Regions from separate parts of the Homo sapiens genome. Here regions 1 and 2 are each linked to region 3. The links come from fine-mapping of genetic effects on plasma protein levels. A gene starts in region 3. Each other region holds a variant in brackets. All regions are shown on one strand. Distances are between the middles of the regions.

Region 1 (7,518 bases), 88 kb before region 3:
CTGTTGCATGCTTGGCATGTTGAATCCTGATTTTTCCACCTACTTTACTCTGCAATGACACTGCTAAGTCCTGCACTCTCCAGGGCAACTCCAGTTTTAGACATGCTGGTCCCACGACGCCCATGGGTGTACTCACGCTTGTGTCACGGCAAGGTCCGCTCCAGGAAGCTTCCCTTGTTAACCCACGTCTGTGCAACCCTGTGTGGCAGTACAATTCCTCCTCCCATAGGACGGAGTATCTGCACGTTCCTGGTTTGCTTCAGATGCACCTTGTGCTTTCTTTCCCAGCTGATCCCTTAGTTCCTTTCAAATCCACCCATCCCAATTGGAAGACCATTCTTAAGGAGGGAGCCCTGGAAACCACAGAATACATGATGTGTAGAAGAAACCACAGCCCTGCCTAAAACTGTTTTACTTACTACCTTTACAGGTGGCATGGTGTTAGATAAACTTTGAGATACAATTTTGAAGCATTTAATCAGAACGCAATACCAGAGTGGGAACTGCCAACTTGTCATTTAACTGGAATCAGTGTAAACTCCTGTGTTTAGATTCAGAAAATTAAGGGCTCCAACACAACACACTAAAAAAGTACCTCTCCTTCTGAACCACAGTTCTAAAAAATAAAATAAATTAAAAGCCTCAAACTTTTGGTAGTGAAGTTAAAAACCAGCTCAAGAGTATACTGTGACTGTTTAACAGAACGAAAAGGTGGGCTGGGCGCAGTGGCTCACACCTGTAATCCCAGCACATTGGGAGGCTGAGGTGGGTGGATCACCTGAGGTCAGGACTTCGAGACCAGCCTGGCCAACATGGGGAAACCCCATATCTATTTAAAAAAAAAAAAATTTGCCAGGCGTGGTGGTGGGTGCTTGTAATCCCAGCCAGTCAGGAGGCTGAGACAGGAGAATCACTTGAACCCAGGAGGCACAGGTTGCAGTGAGCTGAGATTGTGCCACTGCACTCCAGCCTAGGCAACAGAGCGAGACTTCATCTCAAAAAAAAAAAGAAACAAGAAAGAAAGAGAGAGAGAGAGGAAGGGAGAAGGGAGGAGAAGGAGGAGGAGAAGGAGAAGAAGAAGAAGAAAATAAAAAAAGGTGAATGTATTGTCAGGGTGCATCCATGTAAGCAGAATGTCCAAATCACAGGAAACGCATGCTTCACTGAACCCTGGACCAAGCCCTCATCATCCAGCATGACAAGTAACGCACTTGATTATGTGAAGCATGCTTCACAAATGATAGCACCCTCGGACAAGGAAGAGACTTGGGGTGTCTAGCCTAGATCAGAAGAGAGAACAGAGAAACATAAAGCAGCTTTTAGATGTTTGACAGGTTGTCACGTGGAAGGGGGACTCTAGAATGTTAACCATTGGGAGGAAGTTATTGAGAAACAAGTTTCTCTTCAGTATAAAGAGGAATTCTGGGCCGGGCACAGTGGCTCACGTCTATAATCCCAGTACTTTGGGAGGCTGTGGATGGATCACTTGAGATCACGAGTTCAAGACCAGCCTGGCCAACATGGTGAAACCCCGTCTCTACTAAAAATACAAAAATTAGCCGAGTGTGGTGGCGGGCGCCTATAATCCCAGCTACTCGGGAGTCTGAGGCAGGAGAATTGCTTGAACCTGGGAGGCAGAGGTTGCAGTGAGTCGAGATCCTGCCATTGCACTCCAGCCTGGGCAACAGAGTGAGACTCCATCTCAGAAAAAAAAAAAAGAGGAATTCTGGCAGGAAAAATAAGAGCCCCCAGAGATGTCCACATCCTAATCCCTGGAACCTGTGACTGTGTGGCCTTACGTGGTGAAAGGGACTGTGCAGATGTGAGTAAGCTGAGGACCTGGGGATGGGGAGACTTTCCAGGGTTCGACTGAGGGTCCCTTGTAACCACAAGGGTCTGTAGGAGAGGGAGAAGGATTTGACAACAGAAGCAGAGGTCAGAGTCAGAGAGATCTGAGGATGTTACTCTGCTGGTTTTGAAAATGGAAGAAGGAGCTGCAAGCCAAAGAATACAGGTGGCCTCTAGGAACTGGAAAAGGCCGGGACACAGATTCTCCCCTGGAGCTTCTAGGAGGTATGCAGCCCTGCTGGCACCTTGATTCTAGCCAAATAAGATCCATTTCAGACTTCTGGCCTCCAGAACTGTAATGGATTAAATGTGTATTATTTTAAGCCAACAGGTTTGTGGTGAGTTATGGGAGCAGCAATAAGATATGAGTTCATTGGCTAAGGGACAGATGGCCACTGCCAGCCCCAGTGAGTTCCCCGTCCCAGGAGGCAATCAAGAAGAGGCTGAACATCTCTACCTGTCAGGAATGCTGTGCAGGCCAGTCCTGCATGAATTGGGAAGTAAGGTGGATGACCCACGCAGGCCCCTCGAATTCTGAGAGTCCACAATTTATGGCAATACCTTCTGCTTTCGTATTCTGCACACAGATCCCCACCTCCTGCCTACGGGTAGCAAGGCTTGCCCACTGTCTTCTCCAAGGAGAGCCATGGTAGTGACACTTTCTACCACCACTGAGTAAAAGGCAGGCTTTGGGAGGGTGTCCTAACGGCATCTTGGCCTGGCTCAGAGCTAAAGTGCTTGCTGGGGACACTTACCTGAGCAGAGGACTCCCTTGTTCCTGGCACAGGAGAAGTTGTCGCACTCACAGAAAGGCCCATAGATCTTGCCAAACTCGCTCTCGAAGCAGGAGCACTGGTTGCAGCTGCAGTCCCCACGCCCGCTGCACAGTGGCTTGCCCTCTGCCTCCCGGCACAGGTTCTGGTACACGCTCTGGTTCTCCCCATCCTGGCACTCGCACCTGGTGCCCAGGTAGC[C/T]GGGGCTGCACTCACACAGGCCGCAGACATAGGTCCCGCTCCCGTTGCACCTGGCGCTGTTGGGTTCCAGCCCCACGCTGCAGCCGCACGTGCAGTTGTAGGTGACCCCCACCTCCAGGCTGTCCCGGAATCCCACCGGCCGCAGGGCAAACACATGCTCCGTGTGTCTGCTGGGACAGCTTCGGGCCTCCAATGATACTTCAAAAGATGCCTGGGCAGAAGGAAGAGAAGGGATATCATGGCTGCGGCAAGCCAGGGTCTCCCATTCACCCAGGGGCAGGGCCCTTGATGAAGAGCAGCTGCGAACTCCAGCCCTCTCCACGCACTCAGGTAGAACCACCAAGATGGCCGGAGTAGGAAGAGACCTCAGAACCAGCAAGCTCCCATGCTTCATGGAGAAGAGAATGCACAGGTGAGCTCACATTTGACAGGTGAATTCTTTAACATTCATTATCTCTTTGCATCCCCATGACCCTGAGGAAATGGGCCCCTGCGGAAAGCTATAGGGCTTCCTTGAGTTCACACAGTTCTTATTCTCCCTTTCTTTTCTCTTCTGTCCTATCCTCTTCCCAGCCCCGCTGCAGATGCCTCTTCTCTGCTCACTTAAAAAGTCATTTGGTGGAAAAACATTTCCTGGGCGCTGCCTCTGTGCCAGGCACAATGGCACTCTCACAGGGTGCCGGGTGAAGGGCACCCACCTGGCCCGCCATAGAGAGGGCTCTGTGCCTGCTGGCAAAGGGCTCAGCTGACTCCAGAGCTTGCTCTCCAGACACCCCCGAGTCCCCCGTGCCCCAATTCCTCCTCTGTGAGTGCTTGTCATAGCTGCATCTTTCACAATCCCCCCATGCCCCTGAGGTCTTAAAGAAGAGTCTCCAACTGATGAAATGCACCATGCACATGGACAGACCTTTTCTTTTTAAACAGAATATGTAAGGAAGTGTTTCTCACTCAGGAGCTTCTCACAGATTGCCTTGAAAACAGGCTCAAGGTGGGCCTGGATGGGTGGCAGATGGTGCGGGAGGGATGCCTGTCAGCTGCCCACAGGGCTGGGATGGAAGGAAAGCAAGAATGAGGCTTGGTCTGATTCAGGAACTAGAGCCTGACTCCCCCACCCTCTCCTCCTCACCCCCCTGAGGAGAGCCATGTGGGGTCTGAATCACCCATCAGGGCCCTGAGAGCAAGTCACTGTGGATTCTATGAAAACGCACAGACAGGTGGCCAGTGTGCCCTGATGAAATGCCGTTGTAAAGTTTTACTCAGGGGTGGGTTCTCCCTTACTCCCTGAACAGACAGAGGCCCGGCCCACCCCACAAACAGACTCACTGGATCTGGGTCCAAATGTCTTTATTTTTCAAAAGGCTCCTCAGATCATTCTGAAGCTCAGAATGGGTTAAAAACCACTTTCAGCTATTACTATTCTTAATTCTATTCTTTCGGCTAGAATAAAGCTTTTTTTTTTTTTTTTGAGGTGGAGTCTCGCTCTGTTGCCAGGCTGGAGTGCGGTGGCATGCACTCAGCTCACTGCAATCTCCACCTCCCGGGTTCAAGCCATTCTCCTGCCTCAGCCTCCAGAGTAGCTGGGATTACAGGTGCGCGCCACCACACGCAGCTAATTTTTGTATTTTTAGTAGAGATGGGGTTTCACCATGTTGGCCAGGATGGTCTCCATCTCCTGACCTCGTGATCTGCCCACTTCGGCCTCCCAAAGTGCTGGGATTACAGGTGTGAGCTACTGCGCCCAGTCATTAAAGCTAATTTTTAAAATGTCATCATTCACTTGATTTACTGGACAATCTTCAGGTAACAATGTTTTTGTTGTTGTTGTTGTTGTTTGAGACAGAGTCTCTCTGTCACCCAGGCTGGAGTGCAGTGGCACCATCTCGGCTCACTGCAGCCTCTGCCTCCCAGGTGCAAGCGATTTTCCCATCTCAGCCTCTCAAATAGCTGGGATTACAGGTGCCTGTCACCATGCCTGGCTAATTTTTGTAGTTTTGGTAGAGACGGAGATGGGGTTTCACTGTGTTGGCCAGGCTGGTCTCAAACTGCTGACCTGAAGTGATCCACCCGCCTTGGCTTCCCAAAATGTTGGGATTACAGGCGTGAGCCACTGCGCCCGGCCCACGATGTTCATTTTTTGAGAACATTATAAATATCTGTTTCTAAACATACAGATCCCTATTACTTTGAGATTTTTACTGGTTCTAAAAGGCCTCCCCTCAGATGCTGTGACATCTAGGGACACGGGGAGAGGGGAGAGGGTATGGGACTGAGCAGGAGGATAGATCCTGCTCTATAAGTCCTGCAGAAAGTCCTGCGTGGCAGCAAACTGCTGTTTCAAAGGACTTGACAACAGACACCCAGGACTCAGCATTAGCCAAGAGGCTCAACAGGAGAGGCTTCTGGATAGGTGAGCTGAGGATAGCTAGGGGAGCAGGATCAGAAGACACTCGGGGGACCAGGCCAGCTGCAGACAGCTTGGGCTAGCTCCACCTTACCTTCCATCTCTGTGGGGTAGGAAGAGTAGGAAGAGACAAAGGGGAGAGATTGACAAAAACAACTCCAAGGCTAAGTTCCAAGGTCTCGAGGTACAGGGAGTCTCTCAAGGTGAGTAAAGATTCAATCCACTTGGACACTGAAATTGGTTAAAGGATAACACGAATAGGATGGGCGTAGTGGCTCACACCTGTAATTCCAGCCCTTTGGGAGGCTGAGGTGGGCAGACTGGGAGGATCACTTGAGGCCAGGAGTTCGAGACCAACCTGGACAACATGGCAAAACCCCATCTCTACCAAAAGTACAAAAAATTAGCCGGGCATTTTGGCACATGCCAGTGGTCCCAGCTACTCAGAAGGCTGAGGTGGGAGGATGGCTTGAGCCCGGGAGGGGGAGGTTGCAGTGAGCCGTGATCGTGTCACTGCACTCCAGCCTGGACGACAGAGTGAGATCTTGTCTCAAAAAGAAAAAAAAAGCAAAACAAAACACTAATAATTATTAGTTGCCAAGTGCCTACTATGTACCAGGCACTGTGCTGGACTTTTCCACAAGCATCTCTTTTAAATGCCCTAGAAGGAAGTGTCCTCATTTTACCAGAGAGAAAACAGGGTTGGCGGGGTTGGTGGATTTAGTCATGCTCACACAGCTGATGAGTGGGGCCAGGCCTAGAGCAGGGCCCGCGCTCTCCTTAGCATATCCACCTCCTAGACGGGGGAATGAGGTCTACCTCATCGGGGTGCGCAGGGAGAGCCAGCCTGGCTTACTAAAGGGACCCCTTGATGGTGATCCCCAAAGTGGTGGCCAGAGGCATCTCCACATCTTTCTGCCGTGGGCTGGGAACGATTTGAGCCTGCAGATAGGATAAGAGTGGGGACTATGCCTGCCCGAAGCCACCCGTGGGGCCATCAAGAATGCAGAGGTGAATGGAGCTTTGAGGGGCAGATGCCATCCCTCCCTTCTGAGGCCCAGAGAGAAACTTGCTTGCATCTCCTATTACTATTTGCTTGAAGCTCCCACAACAGTGACATGCTTGAAGCTACCTGTAGCTTGCTTCAAGTTACAGCTGAAACCCTGTACTTCTAGGGCTACAACTTGCTGGACTTGTGCTCCACAGAGGCATCTGCGGGTCAGAAACTGAATAAACTACAGAGGAATGACCTGGACCAAGAGCCAAAGGCATTTAATTATTGAAAGACTGTGGGGAGTACACACCTGTGAGTATAACCTTGTCTCATGGAAACTTGCCTGCCTTGGGGTTAAAGCAATGAAAGTGAGAGTTAAGTCTCCAGAATCTTGCTGATGTGTCTGGGAGAAAGTGGGAGGTTAGGGCACCCCTAAAGTTCTGGCACTCAATCACCAGCATGTAGAAACACTTGGGCACTGTCTGCCCAGCTGGGCAAGCAAGGAGGGCCCAGCTTTCAAGCAGGTCCTGAGGCCTTCCCCAGCCAAGCCTTCGGTCCAAGTGAGGTGCTATCTGTCTGGCCCTGTGCAGCCTGGAGTGTAGCCAGATGCCTGATAACCAGAGAATGTTCTGTCTATTTCAGCCACTGGGTCTCAGCTCCTGCTGGGCACGGGAAGTGCTATAAAAAGCACTTCAGGACCAGCAAGGAAATCTGTTTGCTTACCCCTCCTTTCAGAGGGTCCATTTTCCCTACTGGATTTGGAAAGAATCCAGAAAGGCTGGAAGGCAGCTGGAATGAGGCCTCTTCGAGTCCCTCCCCTGATTCCTGAGAACTTCAACTGATACTGAAGGCTCCCCAGTTCCTGGACACTTTCCATTCATTCGCTCTGAGATTCCAGAGGAAGGTCACAGACACAGCAGCCCTCCCACTCGGTCTTGTTATTAGAACTTCATTGGGATTCTCCTGGTTCCCCTGTGGAGCTGACTGGCCTGATGCACCCTTTCAAAAGGGCTGCCCAGCCCCCACCCTGAACCCACCAAATCCAGGGCTATCCTATGCAGATGCCAAGTCTGCTCAGATCTCAACAAAAAAGGAGCTGGGATGGGCACAGGCTACAGAGTCCCGAGGAGTGGACGGGAGCGGGGAGGGGGTGCTGTGGGAAGCCCATGACGGGGTTCACTGGCTGCTTTGTGCTGGGCGTCTGTGCTAGCCTCACAGCCAGCCACTTGCATACTGATTTGTTGAAGCCAGTTCCTGAGTAAACTGACTCCCGATGGTTGGTGTAGGATAAAGGGAGGAAA
Region 2 (7,518 bases), 26 kb before region 3:
GCATATATTGAGTTTTATGCATAAATACGGATTGTATGCAAACCTGCCGTTACTCAAATCACTTATTTTTTATTTTGGGTTCTTGTTGTTGTTGTTGTTTTTGTTTTTTAGAGTCTCATCTTCATCTAGACTGGAGCCTCAAACTCCTGGGTTCAAGGGATCCTTCCACCTCAGTCTCCCCCATAGCAACGGGGTCTCACTATGTTGCCCAGGCTGGTCTCAGATTTCTGACCTCAATCGATCCTCTCTCCTTGGCCTCCCAAACCACTGAGATTACAGGCATAAGCCACCACACCCGGCCTTCTCTAACTCTCTAACTCTTCTACAGGAACTGCTGTAAAAGCCAGTTGATAGTCAAACCAGACAACCATCTCTGCTCACACTCACACCTTAATTCTCATTTTAAAAACTGGAATTATTAAAGTGTGGACATCTTTGGATTTGTGTGATGCAACTCTTGTCTAAGTTAAGTCTATCCTGAAGAAGAGAGACTTGCCACCATAAAGGATACTTCTTGGAGAGAACACCACAGGCTTTGAGAGCTATTCTAGATGAGGAGTTCAGAAAATGTAAATTAAAACCTTCCTCCACAATGGCTCTGAAACTACAAACTCTTTTGGAGGTGTGAATTTTTTTCCTAATTTTCAAAGATTATTGAATGAAAATAGCACGATTATACATACATTATGATAAGTATATGAAAAATACAAAAAGGTGAATAATACAGAGGACATAGTAAAAATGAAAAATAATTTTATGTTAAAGTGGATTATTTTTCTAGAATTTCATGTGTTATTGCTATACTGTTACTATGATAAAAAAGAAAATACACTATTCTTATACAACACGATGTTCCAACATATTAAGGGTCTATAACAACTCCTATATCCCTTTCGGTCCAAACCCTGGACCCTGAGTCTGTCTTCACATAAGAGATTTCTCTTTCCCCAGAGGACATTACCAACCATCTGCCCACATAAGTGCTCAGCTGACTTTTTTCTACCCACTCACACAGCTCTGTAAGAGTTCCCTTCCTTTTCTCTCTCAATTCAGTATCTCACTAAACAAAAAGGCTGAGTGTTGCTTACAGTGAGAAGGTTTGCAAAAATCCTAACTTCAATTAATCTCAACACTGATTCCTGGGCAGGCAACCCAATAGTTTAAGCTTCTCTATCCAGCAGGGCCAACTTACACTCTTCTTTTGTTTCTTATTTTCAAGACAATTAAAATAGACAAAATAAAACATTTCTCAACTATATGATGACTTGGAGCTTTCTTTAAAAACTCTTGGTGCAGACCATACAATGATAACCACAGCAACAACAACGAGCTTTACTGAGTGCTTACCACATGCAGCACTGTGTTAATCCATTTCCAAGGCACTGAGCATCCCTGGTCAAACCTCCATCTGGTACCCTCGGCCACTGCTCTTTGAAAATAATAAAAATTTTAACTTTGAAAAGTTCACTGATACAAAAAGTCCATTTAAGCCTCTGAACATGCCCATGAGGAACAAAGGTGACAAAGACCCTAAGATGCTGAGAGATGGAGTAACTTGCCCAGGGCCTCCAAGCTAGGGACAGAGCCAGAGCTAGAACCCAAGAGAGCCAGCCAGATCCATGATCTTTCCACTGCTACAAGCTTCCCTGGAGTCTAAATAAACCATCTACAAATAGCTACTGCCAATGGTTTCCTAGACCATGGGATAGAAGAAAACAGCAAAAAATCAGTAAAATGTGAAAAAATCTGCCCCTTCCCAATAGCGTAATACTTTCCAATTTAGCCACATGCACATCTAACCCTTTGACATTGCAAGGCTTCTAATATGCAGAATATTCAATGATAAAAGTGGTGAACTAGAAACAGCCATGGGTTTGTGGTTACCAAGACCTGGGGCTGAATCGATTCACCACTTACTGAGAGACCTTGAGCAGGTTGTTTCCTTGTGTGTAAAATGAGAGCTACCTGGCCAGGCATGGTGGTTCACGCCTGTAACCCCAGCACTTTGGGAGGCCGAGGAAGGTAGATCACCTGAGGTCAGGAGTTCAAGGCCAGCCTGGCCAACATGGTGAAACCCCATCTCTACTAAAAACACACACACAAAAAAATTAGCTGGGCGTGGTGGTACACATCCAGCTATTAGGGAGGCTGAGGCAGGAGAATCTCTTGAACCCGGGAGGTGAAGGTTGCAATGAGCCAAGACTGTGCCATTGCACTCCAGCCTGGGTGACAGAGCGATACCCCATCTCAAAAAAAAAAAAAAAAAAGATAGCTACCTTAAAGTTAGGTCAAGTGTTTAGCACATAGTAGGTGTGCAAAACTGTTTCTTTATATTACATTATAAGTAATTATATTACCGTTTCCTTATATTAAGCAACTCTAAGGCTTGCAGGGCCCCATGGTCACAAAACAAAATATCTCCACTCTAAAAGTTTGTCCTTGCAGAATGCTACAGACTCAAATGGAATTTGCTGACAGGAAAAAACACTTTTTCCTAAAAGTGGCGTGTTTCCTGAGCAACTTGCATTCACTAAGGAGTAAATCTACCAGCATCCTCCTAGAATAAACCACAGCATTATTCACAAGAGCCAAAAGTTGAAGACAACCTAAATGTTCACTGACAAATGAATAAACAAAATGTGATACACCCATACAATGAAATATTACTCAGCCAAAAAAGGAATGAAGTGCTGACACATGCCAAAATATGTGTGAAACTTGAAAACATTACACTTAGTGAAACAAGTCAAACTTCAAAGGACAAATATTGGATGATTCCACTTATGGTAGGTATCTGGACTAGTCAAGTTCAGAGTCGGAAAGTAGAGTAGGCAGCCACTACACCCTGAATGACTGTAATTTCTGCCATCAGTTGCTCCCTGATTTAAACAAAATTTAAAAACAAAAATAAATGAAAAATAAAAAATAAAGTAGAATGCTGGTTACCAGGAACCAAGGGAAAGAGAGAATGAGGAGTTAATGTTTAATGGGTATAGATTTTCTGTTTAGGACGACGAAAATGTTCCGGAAATAGATACTGCTGATGTTTATACAATATTGTGAATTTAATGCTGCTGAACTGTACACTTGAAAACGCTTAAATGGTAAATGTTATGTATATTTCACCACAATTGTTTAAAAATAGCAAAGATCTTCCTCTGTCCACAGGAGCCTGTCCACAGACACATCAATAAGAATATACTCTGCTTCCTGAGGTCTGAGCCTTGCCTCCCCATCACCATCTCGTGGCTCTGATCTCAGCCTGGCCTGACTCATTGTCCCATTATTAACAAGTCCCACCTCCCCCATGGGCCTTCCTGATCCCAGAGCATCCAGCCCTTTCTGTGGGCAACTCACCGGGCCGGAGGTTCACGGCAATCTCCTGTGGTGTCATCTGAATGACGTCCCAGCCTGCAGAGCCCGAACCCTTGCTGCTGAGGGGCAGGCTCCTCAGGACATGGAAGCTGCTGGCTGGGCTCT[C/G]TATCTCACCTCCACAGCCATTTTTGACAAGGTTTGCCCTCAGATCACACCGAGAGGTGATGGACCGTGGGCTTCCGAAGTCCTAGGCAGGGAAAAAGAGGAAGAGAGCAGGAGGTGGTCAGGGTGTCTCCCGAAAACATCGCATGTCGTGGCTGCGTCTCCATCTGGTTGACCTTAAATTCTCTACTTTCCATTTTCATTGTCTGAAAATGGAGGAAATGGTAATCCCTATCCCAGATGCTTCACCAAGTATTGTAAGGATTAACTGAGCTGCTGGACATGACAGCATTTTGTAAACTGTAAACACATAATAAAAATGTTCGGTTTTGTTGTTATTTTGATGGTTAAAATGCTCCTAACTGCCTACATGATTAGCAAGAGAAACAGAAATGATCAGAAGTTGTATAGCTAAAATTTTTTAAAAGTTGTTATATATTGCTGGGCATGGTGGCTCATGCCTGTAATCCCAGCTATTTGGGAGACTGAGGTGGGAGGATCGCTTGAGATCAAGAGTTTGAGACCAGCCTGGGCAACATAATGAGACCTCCTCTCTAAAAATAAATAAATAAGTAGATGAAATAATATATAGTTAAATAAATAAGATGACATATAAGTAGCTGAAAAGTCTTCCCTTGGGCATTCAAGAGTTAACCTTTAAGTTGTTCACTTATCATCTTTCACAGGCATTGGATGCTGGATAATCATTCAGGAGAACAATGTGGCAGTACAGGTCATATCCACTGACCCAGTGCTCTACTCCAAGAAACTTATTACAAGAAAATCATCTAAAGAGAAAGGAGAAACTCTATGTGATATATACGGCAGTATTACTTATAATATAATCTTTAAAACTTGCAAACCTAAATCCTTAAACCATAAGAATAACATAGCATATCACTTCAATAGATGACAGCCATTACAAATAATTATGGGAATTAAGAAGAAATTTAAAATATTTACACTAAGGAGGAAAAAAAAACCCAAAATATAGAATTGTATTTATTAGGATTTGAAAGAACAATTTTAAATGAGGTGTTATAGTAAAGTGACAAAAACATTTTTGTTTTTATCTTTGTTGTTTGTATGATAACGACACATTGATAAGAAAAATCTTTCTTTGGGTTTGGGAGAAAGCTGGACATCAGAACAACTCAACCTCATTTGGGACACCAGAAGGTTAAGGTATTAACTTTAAAATGAAACAATATACTTTATTATAAATCATGAAGCCTCCCTGGTCATTTCCGGCAAAGGGGTTTCACCTTTTCCCTGGTGAATGTGAAAAACAAGATTCCCCCCACTCTGGCAGGCTGGAAGCCAATGCTGTCCTATGAGTCTTTCTGGAGGAGTTAGGACACTGGTCCCTTCCTCTTCCCTCTGGAACACTTTGCCAGAAGCCTCATGTGAGTCAGCATCCCTTGACCACTTTGTTAGAAGCCAGACTGCTGGCAGAGGCACAAAAATCAGAGGAATGCACCCTCCCTCAAGGTCTCAGATGTCCTGGAACTACCCAATGCCCTTTAGAATCCTTATAAAATTCAAGATCAAGAAGTCAGCCTGGTGTGGTGGCTCACACCTGTAATCCCAGCACTTTGAGAGACTTGAGGCAGGAGGATCATTTGGGCTGGGAGTTCAACGCTGCAGTGAACTGCGATTGTGCCACTGCACTCCTGCCTGGGCGACAGAGCAAGAGCCTGTCTCAGAAAAACAAAAAACAAACACAAAAAAGAACAAGAAGTCAAGAAGACGCTGCAGTGTTTTTAAATAAGTAAAGCCAGATGTATTGTCCTAAGCCTACGGTATGTTTGTTTATATTCTGGGTTGTTTTTTTTTAATAACGATTTTTTATTTGTGCATTAAATCCCCGAGGATCTTGCCTGTCAACAACCTCCAGGACTACATCAAAGGTATAAGTGGCTCCATAAACACTTGTTGTGCAACAAGGTTAGAAAAATGAGTTTTCTAGCCAGCCATGGTGGCTCATGCCAGCATTTTAGGAGGCTGAGGCGGGAGGATCGCTCGAGCCCAGGAGCTCCGGGCTGCAGTGGGCTATGATCCATGCCACTGCACTCCAGCCTGAGCGACAGTGAGACTTTGTTAAAAAAACAAAACAAAACATATATATATATATACACACACACACACACACACACACACACACACAGAGAGATACACATATATATATTATTCTGGCCTTAGATTTTTTTTTTTTTTTTTAGACACAGTCTTGCTCTGTCACCAGACTGGAGTACAGTGGCGCAATCTCAGCTCACTGCAACCTCCGACTCCCTGGTTCAAGCAATTCTCCTGCCTCAGCCTCCCGAGTAGCTGGGATTACAGCCACGCACCACCATGCCCAGCTAATTTTTGTATTTTTAGTAGAGACGGGCTTTCACCATGTTGGCCAGGATGGCCTCGATCTCCTGACCTTATGATCTGCCCGCCTCGGCCTCCCAAAATGCTGGAATTACAGGCGTGAGCCAGTGCACCCGGCCTCTGGCCTTAGATTTAAAAGCAGAACTTTCTAAATGGGGTTCCAGGTGGTCAAGCTTGGCTCTGATATAGCAGTTCTAGTGAAGCAGTGAGAAGAAAAACACAGGGTTCTGGAAAAGGAGGGGTAACGACCTGAGGGCCCTGCCAGTTTGGGTCTGCTGTCTTGAGCTGTCTGAAGTAGATGTCTAATTAGCTTTCCAGAGCTTGAAGAGCTCAGGGGCTTGCCTGCCCAGTGCTTACTCTGCTAGAGAATTTCTGAATTTCTCACTGGCGAACTGAGCCTTGCTATCCAGCCCCTCTGCTTCTGAGGAACTGACTATACTTGGCCCAGTTCTGTTTGTCAAGGTGCACCTGTTTTGATCAGTCCAGTGCACAGCCCCACCACCAGGGTGGCAACGGAAGCATGGTCAGTTTTTTCAGAGTAATGAGAACCCCTGACACCTCTCTCACTGGTCTGGACCAGCTTACACTCTGGAATAGACTAGGGCACAGAGCCAACCTGCTTCACCTAAGCAGGAGGCAGGTGCACAATTCCTTCAGTTTGGTCAATGAGATGATCCCCCCCACTGCTGGGATACTTGCACTGGCAGTGAACTTCATCTGAGCTTCCCAACATCCTGCTCAAAGGGATTTTTGATGGATACTACCCATCATTGCAGAAGAACTTGTACAGGGCCAAATGTATCTGCTGGGACCATCAGGAGACTTAAAGTCCAAATCATATTTCCCAGACCTGAAGAACTGTGAGGCGGACAGGTCAGTGCCTATTACAACCCTAGTAGTGTCGCTGGCTTTCCCAAGTGCATGCTGTAGCAGCTCTGGGGCTTCTTTATTCTCTAGGATGTTAGGAGCAAAGCCCTCTTCATGCCCTTCACTGGTAGCAGTTTTCCCATGTTTCTCCTTAAAAACATTCTTCAGCTGAGGTTGTGATAAACCTCAGCTCCAGTGCATACGAGGCTTCCCTAAAGTTAGCTGCACCAACAACAAGAATCATGGGCTCCTGCACTGTCACCTGGTTGCCAGTGTGGAAACCACCATTAATCACATTAAAGCTGCAACTTGCAGGGTTGCACTGACTTCGGAAGCACAGACCAAGTCAGCAACATGATGGTACAAAGGGAGTCCTATTCTCAGCAACTCCAGCTTTATAGACAGCAAAGGACACACCATATGCCACGCGGACCAAAGTTAGATTTCTTCTCAGTGCCAGGCATCTCTATCATCAGTGTCAAAGTTCGCTTTCTTGCTATCTAGGTCAGGCCATATGGTTTTGTTGATGTGCTCAACAACTTTGAGGCATCTTTACCTATATATCGAGTCCTGTCATTATTTTCCCAGAGCTCTAGGGACTCAGAGCCACTAGCTGAGGCACCACGGGGCAAGGCAGGTCTGAAGAAGCTTTTGAGGGTAAGGCAGCTACCTTAACAGGGAAATTCCCCTAAGAGGTAAAGATCTCTTTTGGCACGGAGTCCAAACAATTGCTGTGACTAATTTCTTTTGATTTATTTTTGACCCGATAAGGAAAGAGTAAGCCATAACTGATTT
Region 3 (7,518 bases):
AGATGAATAAAACCAACAAGACTCCCTTATTCACGGAGCTCACATCCTGGCTGGGGGAGAATTCTACTTAGGGGAAATAGTGAAGAAGATATGTAGTTACATTAGATGGTGGTGAGTGCTAAGGACAAAAATTAAAGAAGAAAAGCAGATAAAAAGAACTCGGGATATAGGGAGGAGGTTGCAGCTTTAGCTGGGAGCGGCCAGGGAAAACTTGGCTGAGCAGGAGATGCTAGAAAAAGGGTTGCAGGGTGGAGGAAGCCGGTCATGCAGATATCTTGGAGGACAGTATTCCAGGCAGGGAGAAGGGCTGCCATGGGAGCATGGCTGGCACGCTGAAGGGACAGTGGGAGGCCCATGCTGCTGGAGCAAAGGATCGAAGGGAAAGTGGTGAAGGAAAGTCAGAGAAGTAGGTGGAGAGTTCGTGGAGCCTGGCAGGACTCTGGGAAACCATTCGAAGGTTTTAAGCAGAGAGATATGATCTGACTTGAGTTGGATCTCAGGATCACTCTGAGGGACAGTTGAGAATAACTAAAGAGAACAAGTTGCAGAAGTAGGTCCCAGCTCTACAAGAGACAACCAGCTCTGAAAATGTCTGGCTGGAGTTGGGGAGGGAATCCTATAAAGAGAGGGCAGGGTACCCCGCAGTGCCTTCAAAGCATCAGCCTTAGGGGATGAGTCAAGCCTGTCTTAGAGCAAACTTTTCACCATGAGGCCCGGGAAGTAAACCCTGCATTCAACGGAAGCAAGAAGCCTCAGAAACAAATGGGTGCCTCTAAATAAAGCATTCCTTTACATTTATAGAGGCCATTAATCCCATTCGAACCGGAAAGAAGGAAAACAAACCACGGCAGTCAGTTCTCCAAGGCCCTCGGCTCCAGCCAACTGGAAATACCTGTGAAAAGAGACCCTATCCCATTAACCCAGCTGCACACTGCCATGTGAAAGGGGCCCTATTATTTAAGTAGTTTGTAATTGTCCCACATTACTGATATCGTTAAAGCATCTCAGAATATTTCCATGGCCAGGCTGAATAAGAAAAAGTAGTTACCAGGCCACGCAGGCACAAAAGGCCTTTTGCCAAACTACTTAGATATTTTAATTCCCCGTTGCCTCAGTAGCTAAATAAGCATGGAGAACAAGCAGGCGGGGAATACTAATTAGAGCTAATTAGACCCTGCCCTCTTCTGCCTCAATCCCCTTTATAAAAAGCTCCCCCAACTCAAGGATGATGGAGTTAAAATGTAAATCCATAGGATAAACAGCAGTCTACAGACCAAACCCACTGTTTGTATTTCATTGTCCTGTCAGCTCTAAACCTGTGCCTGGTTACCTACAGAGAGCTGCAGACCCAGCCAAATTCCAACAACCCCATCACAGACCACAGGAAATGTGGTAGGGGGTTGGGGGTAGAGGAAGGGTGCTGCCAACATGAGTCCACTAAATAAAACAAAGGGCTTTCTTAGGATGTGCAGAGCATTCACTAGAAGAACATTCGATTGCTTTTTTAAAAAGAAATGAATGTGATAGCACACATAATTCCAGCGGTGTTGCAGGATCCTCTTTATAAGACGGTGTTCCTCTCTCTGTCTTAGCAAAGGCAGCGTGGAAAAGCCTCACCTCAGTGAGACCCCTGGTTTTGTGGGAAGACCACATCCTAGGATTCTGTCTGAAGGCTCTTGGCCATAAGATAATAAAAAGAGCAGGAGATAGCCCTTGGTGGGGACGGGAGGGGGTTGTCAGCCGGCCAGGGACTTGTTTGAAATGAGCCCCTGAAACCTAAGGTCAGTTTCCTGCTGGAAATCCGTACTGAGATGAAAGTGGGGTTAGAGCAACAGAGAGAGGCACTCAACCACTGGTCCAGGAACACCCAGGCAGGCATGGCCCTGAGGGTCATCTCTTTCTTTTCTCTGAGTAACTAGGTTTTTTTCTTTCAAATAATGTTCCTAGTGGCAAGACAGAAACACTCCCTGAATAAAGTACCTGTAGTGCTTCAAGAAAACAAAGAAGGGAAGGGAAGCAAAAAAAAAAAAGAAAAAAAAAAAGAATGTTGAAGTTAATTCAGCAACACTGAAAAACTAGGAGAAATGACACAGATGTGAGTCAACCTCTGCTAATCCTGAGAAGCTTCAGGGCCCTAAGAGGTAAGCAGCAAGTTCTGGAGGCCAGTGCCATGGCTTGCTCCACCACCACCACCACCAAAACCTGTAGTCAAAGAGATGGGCAGAGGCCAGCCGTGGTGGCTCACACCTGTAATCCTAGCATTTTGGGAGGCCGAGGCGGGCGGATCACCTGAGGTTGGGAGTTAGAGACCAGCCTGACCAACATGGTGAAACCCTGTCTCTACTAAAAATACAAAATTAGCCAGGCGTGGTGGTACATGCCTGTAATCCCAGTTACTCAGCAGGACAATCACTTGAACCTGAGAGGCAGAGGTTGTGGTGAGCTGAGATCATGCCACTGTACACCATCCTGGGCAACAAGAGTGAGACTCTGTCTCAAAAAAAAAGAAAAGAAAAGATAGGCAATGGGAAAACAGGACCCCAAAAGAGTTGCAAATGAACCACCATGCTCAGTGCTTTTCTCTTCCTTAAGCTGAGTCGGTAGGACAAAGGGCACTGGACCAAAAGCCATGGTCCCTGGTCCACCACTCCTGACCCAAGTAGAGGGGAAGGGCAAGTCACTTCCTTCCTGAGCCCATATGAGAAAATGGACATCACCGTGAAGATGTACGTGAACTCTGAAAAAGAGAAAGCAAGATGCAAGTGGAAAATAATGTATTTTTAGAAATTATTCGCAGCCAGGCGTGGTGGCTCATGCCTGTAATTGAAGCACTTTGGGAGGCCAAGGCAGTTAGATCACCTTAAGTGAGGAGTTCAAGACCAGCCCAGCCAACATGGTGAAACCCCATCTCTACTAAAAATACAAAAATTAGCCGGGCATGGTCGCAGCGCCTGTAATCATTGCTACTTGGGAGGCTAAGCCAGGAGAATTGCTTGAACCTGGGAGGTGGAGGTTGCAGTGAGCCGAGATGGCACCACTGCACTCCAGCCTGGGCTACAAGACTGAAACTCTGACTCAAAAAAAAAAAATTATTTGCAACTAGAAATTATTATTATAATTCTGTTTGTCAGAATTACAGAATGTCAAGCTGGAAAGGAACTTAAAAGCCATCTCCTTTGGCAGTTTCTGAACTTTTGGATTTCAAAGAAAACTAAGATTTAAAAACAAAACAAAAGAAACAAACAGAAAAAGAGAAGGGGAGCTTAACATAGGGTTGTCAGATTTTCTTATTTTGCCAAAATTAAAAACTACTAATATTATTAAGAAGTATTAAAAGAAAATGTTCCCACCAAAAAAAGAAAAAGTGCCTAATTTCAAACTAAAGGAAAGTCCTTGTGGAGCAGGGGAGCGTTGACAACAATACATTCCTGTGTGATGCAGGCTACATCTTCCTGCTCCTCGCTTTCCCTAGGGACCCATGAAAATATCCGTGATGGGCACTGGCTGCCGGATGGGTGTTTGGAATCCACTCATCTACTCTCCAAGCTCTGGAGTGATTATTTTCCCATTTAAAACAAAAACCAAAAACCTTGCTACAGTATTAAGTTTGAATTAGGGTCTGAACGAAGTTATTGTTTGCTCAGACCCCTCCTCCGCTCTTAAACCTAAACCTCCACTGCCTTCATGTAAATGAGACACCGTGGGGGAACAGTCCTCCCTTCGGGCAGCCAGGCAACCACTTGGCTCACAAGAGCAATCAAGTATCTCCGGCTTGAAAGTTAATAGAGCACTATTATTTCCTAAAAGAAAGGAGAAAATCCGCATCCCAAACAAGTGCATCCTTCCTCGAGGGCCTCCAAACTACCACGTCCAATCATCTCCCAACTCTGAAAAGTTAGAGCAGGTAACCGAGGGATCCTTGCAACGCTGCCAGCCCACCGCAGCGTCGGGCTAAGGCAATCTCCACAGCCCCTGTCCTCTGCTCCAGAATCCTCCACAGTTAGGGGAGTGTGAGGCTCCGAGCGTGTGCAAATCGCGGGATAAAGTCGGGCAGAAGGAATTTAATAGGGAAGTCCCAGGTGGGGCTGTGGTTTGGGACGCGGGTGCCCCCTCGGGTTTGCGGTGGCCTAGGCGAGGAGGAAGCAGGCGGGGGGCGGGGAGGGTGGGGGCTGCATCTTCAAAGGCAGGCGGCTAGCCTAGGCGCAGCGAACTCCAGGATTCGCTGTGGGCCCTGTGCACCCGCTGTTCCAGGAGGCGAGCCCTCCGGAGTGGAGGTGGCCCCGGGCTTTGGCTGGGGTTTCGAGACTCCCTTGCTTCTCCGGGAACAGGGCACCGACGGCATCCCCCCAGCAGCCCGCCCGCTCCCGGCCGGCCACAAGGACCGCTTTGTGCCCGCCAACGGAGAGCCCGGGCCCCAAGGCAGGGCTGGCGGCGGTCCTCCCCGTGCCCTGGGCGCGGGCCCTGGCGGGCTAGGTCAGCAGGCCGGCCAGCCTGTTTACACAGGAAGGGAAGCTCCTCCTCAGCCCGGGAGGGAACAGGAGACTCACGACAGCCCGGCGGGGCTGCGCGCGGGGAGCGCCCCGCGGGGCTGTCCCCCAGCGACTGGCCCACCAGGGAGTGCCCCGAAGGCGCCCTCCGCCCTCAGGCACCGCCTGCGCTCCCCGCCCCTCCGAGACGCCCGCCCGCGGCTGAGTGTGCGACAAAGTTTCTCTGGGCGCCGTGGGCGGCGCGGCTTACCTGCGAGCCGGGGCAGGAGCGCGCAGAGCCCCAGGAGGCAGGCGTACAGCGGCGCCGGGGCCCGCGGCATGGTGGGGCGCCTCCCTCAGCGGCGGCGCGGTCGCTGCACTCCGCGGGGGCCGGCGGCCGGGGCTGGGGCCGGAGCGCGGGGGCCGAGGGCCGGGGGCCGCAGCCGCATGCCCCGCGCGCAGCTCCGGCTCACGGCGCCCGCGCTGGCCCGCGCCCCGCCGCCACCATCCGTCCCGCAGCACTCACGGCCGAGTCCCGGGACCGCGGCTGCCCTGGCTGGCCGGCCGGGACTCCTAGTGTGTCGCCGCTCGGGACGGCCCCAGCGGGCTGCTCCGGGTAGGGGAGGGGCTGGCTCCGCTCGGCGGCCGCGACTTGGGCTCCGAGACGCGCCCAGCGCCGAGACTCCCCCGCGCGCCGGCACACTCTGCCCCTGGCCTCCGCCCCTTCCCTTCCTCCCTCCGGCCCGCCAGGCTCCACTTTCCTCCTCTCCTTTCTCCTCCCCTTCTCTCCCCTGCCAGGCCCTCGCCCGGCCGCCACACGGTCAGCTTACGGTGAGGCGGGGCGGGGCGAGCTCCGGGCCGGGCCAGCTCCGCCCTGTGCGGGGACCGGCCCGGGACGCGGAGGCCCTACGGGCCCAGGTGGAAGTCGCTTGCGACTCACTTGGGGCGTGGGGGGCTCGAAACCACTGAGTAGAGCCCGCTCCCGTTGCTTAGCCGCCCGTCGCCACGGGAAAGGGGCGGGGCACGCTGTATTAGGCGAGCCGAGATTACTTGGGCCAAAGGCGGTTGCTAGACTGCGAGAGGGAGAGCAGGTACGGGGGTCGTGCCGGTACCGCCTCATCCTCCCAAAGCCTCACTGCCGGCGGCCTGAGATGGGACGTAGACGCCCGCGCGTGGAACCGCAAAGCGACTTCTGGATGAGCAAGGGAGGGCGTGGTGGGGCGTGGAGGCACAAGTAAAACCTACATTTCTTTTTCTTTTCTTTTTTTTTTTTTTTTGAGACAGCGTCTTGCTCTCACTCAGGCTGGAGTGCACTGGCCCAGTCTTGGCTCACTGCAGCCTGGACCTCCTGGGCTCAAAGGTTCCTCCACCTTAGCCTCCTGAGTAACTGGGACTACAGGCGCGCGCCACCACACCCGGACAATTTTTACATGTTTTGTAGAGATGGGGGTCTCGCTGTGTTGCTCAGGTTAGTCTTGAACTCCTGGGCTCAAGCATTCCTCCTGTGTCTGCCTCCTAAAGTGCTGAGATTACAGGTGCGAGCCACCGTGCCCGGCCCACTTTTCACTTTTTAACTTTTGCACCTTTCAAGGATTTGAGACTGGCCAATATGCCGCTATATTTCGTTGTCCTTACTGATAATCTGTCAGTTTCCATGATCAAACTGATAGACTCAAAAACATATGCTCAGGCTTTCATCTTATCATTTACATATAAGCTGGATCTGAACTAGCCAATAAAGAGTGGGGTGGGGTCTTCCTCAGATGGTGCAGGAAAGGATGCCTTGGGCTTGGATTCGCTACAAGTGCGTTTAGAGTGGAGTGGTTGATAGGCAAGAGAAGAGGCGACATTCAGGTAGGGGAAAATAACGATAGAATACCTACCAAGTACAGAGAGCACACTGCCAGCCAGGCACTGTTCTAAGTCCTTTACCCATATTAACTCATTTCATCCTCCGACAACCCTACTGTTATCCAGTTGAGGAACCGAGGGACAGAGGGGTTAACTGCTGGAGGAAGTGACAGCTAGGATGCCTCGTTCAAAAGTGCAGCATGGCTTGGCTAAAACTGAAGCAGTAAGGGGGAAAGAACAAAGGGGTCTCACCTTTGCAGGCCAGGGACCTGGTGGAAGAATGGCTTGGAGGGCCCAGTGGAAAACTGTCCTAACTGCCCAGCTCAAGGAGTTTGGATGTTAACCTTTATTTCTTGGCCTCCTCCCAAACTCTAACAAGGTGGTGCCTCAATGCCTGAGGAAGTAAACTTCTTGAAGTACAATATAGTGTGCCTGGGGGCAAAGATGCAGCAGTCCATAGCAAGCTCCTTTATAGTATTTGTGAAAGGAAAATAAATCTCAGGGCCCCCAAATCACTAAGCCAGGAGAAAAATCAAGCTGGGAACCGTGTCAGGCAAACCTGCCTCCCATTTTATGCCTAATTAAGATAGCTAAGAAGCTACATACCTCCCTCACAATTTACCCACAGGAAATTCCTTTTGGACAAAGGACAGACAGAACTCAAAGTCATCCCTCTGAGGCTCACCTGAGACAAATGAATACCTGATTGCTCCCTCTGGCCTATTGTTTATGTAAAAATGCAGATTCACTGAGCCAGACTAAATTGTGTATTCAGTGGAAGGCTGATCAAGGACCCAAAAGAATGCAACCTTTTGTCTCTTATCTGCTTCTAACCTGGAAGCCCCCACTTCAAGTTGTCCTGCCTTACAAAACCAAACCAATGTACGTCTTACACATATTGATTGATGTCTCATGTCTCCCTAAAACGTATAAAAGCACACTGTAACCCCGACCACCTTGGGTACATATTGTCAGGACTTCCCGTCACTGGCACATCCTTAACCTTGGCAAAATAAACTTTCTAAATTGACTGAGACTGGTCTCAGATATTTGGGGTTAACATATTCTATAATATCCTCATGTTTGTTTTGATGTAAAACGCTTGTCCCTAAACATTTTACAGGAGCTGTCCTGGGTTTATCTTGGAGCTACCTGTCTCTTAGGTCAGTGGCCTTGGAGCTACTCTTATGCCAGTTTGAGA

Alleles and levels. Positions count from the first base shown, and alleles are read on the strand shown. Strength reflects both the effect of a copy and how common the allele is.
As copies of C replace T in region 1, the plasma level of the protein whose gene starts at base 5,172 in region 3 goes up (weak association).
With allele C in place of G in region 2, the plasma level of the protein whose gene starts at base 5,172 in region 3 is higher (weak association).

The links. A credible set is the group of variants that fine-mapping cannot tell apart. PIP is the posterior inclusion probability: the model's chance that the variant is causal. The UK Biobank Pharma Proteomics Project read protein levels with antibody pairs (Olink). The fine-mapping took linkage between variants from a reference panel, not from the people measured, so its PIPs are less certain.
Region 1: its variant is the best candidate, but not a certain one, in a credible set for the plasma level of the ITGB5 protein (UK Biobank, PIP 0.89). The variant lies in the coding sequence of ITGB5. If it changes the protein, the assay may bind it differently, which can mimic a change of level.
Region 2: its variant is the best candidate, but not a certain one, in a credible set for the plasma level of the ITGB5 protein (UK Biobank, PIP 0.77). The variant lies in the coding sequence of ITGB5. If it changes the protein, the assay may bind it differently, which can mimic a change of level.

What each region holds. Positions count from the first base shown.
Region 1 is chr3:124,793,785-124,801,302 of GRCh38, forward strand. It overlaps ITGB5 (integrin subunit beta 5), which reads right to left. Exons shown (of 15, transcript NM_002213.5): 10 at 2,604-3,033. It overlaps LOC124909422 (a long non-coding RNA gene), which reads right to left and starts at 2,591. Exons shown (of 2, transcript XR_007096043.1): 1 at 137-2,591. The variant C/T (reference allele first, on the strand shown) is at 2,823.
Region 2 is chr3:124,855,885-124,863,402 of GRCh38, forward strand. ITGB5 (integrin subunit beta 5) reads right to left here. Exons shown (of 15, transcript NM_002213.5): 3 at 3,358-3,562. It also overlaps the pseudogene ENO1P3. Among named protein-coding and RNA genes, the nearest start is that of ITGB5, 28 kb to the right of the region's middle. RefSeq lists an enhancer at 2,924-3,461. The variant C/G (reference allele first, on the strand shown) is at 3,481.
Region 3 is chr3:124,882,194-124,889,711 of GRCh38, forward strand. ITGB5 (integrin subunit beta 5) reads right to left here and starts at 5,172. Exons shown (of 15, transcript NM_002213.5): 1 at 4,738-5,172. The coding sequence starts at 4,807. RefSeq lists silencers at 1,209-1,503, 4,561-4,650, 5,111-5,550 and enhancers at 3,012-3,896, 5,665-6,547, 6,548-7,432.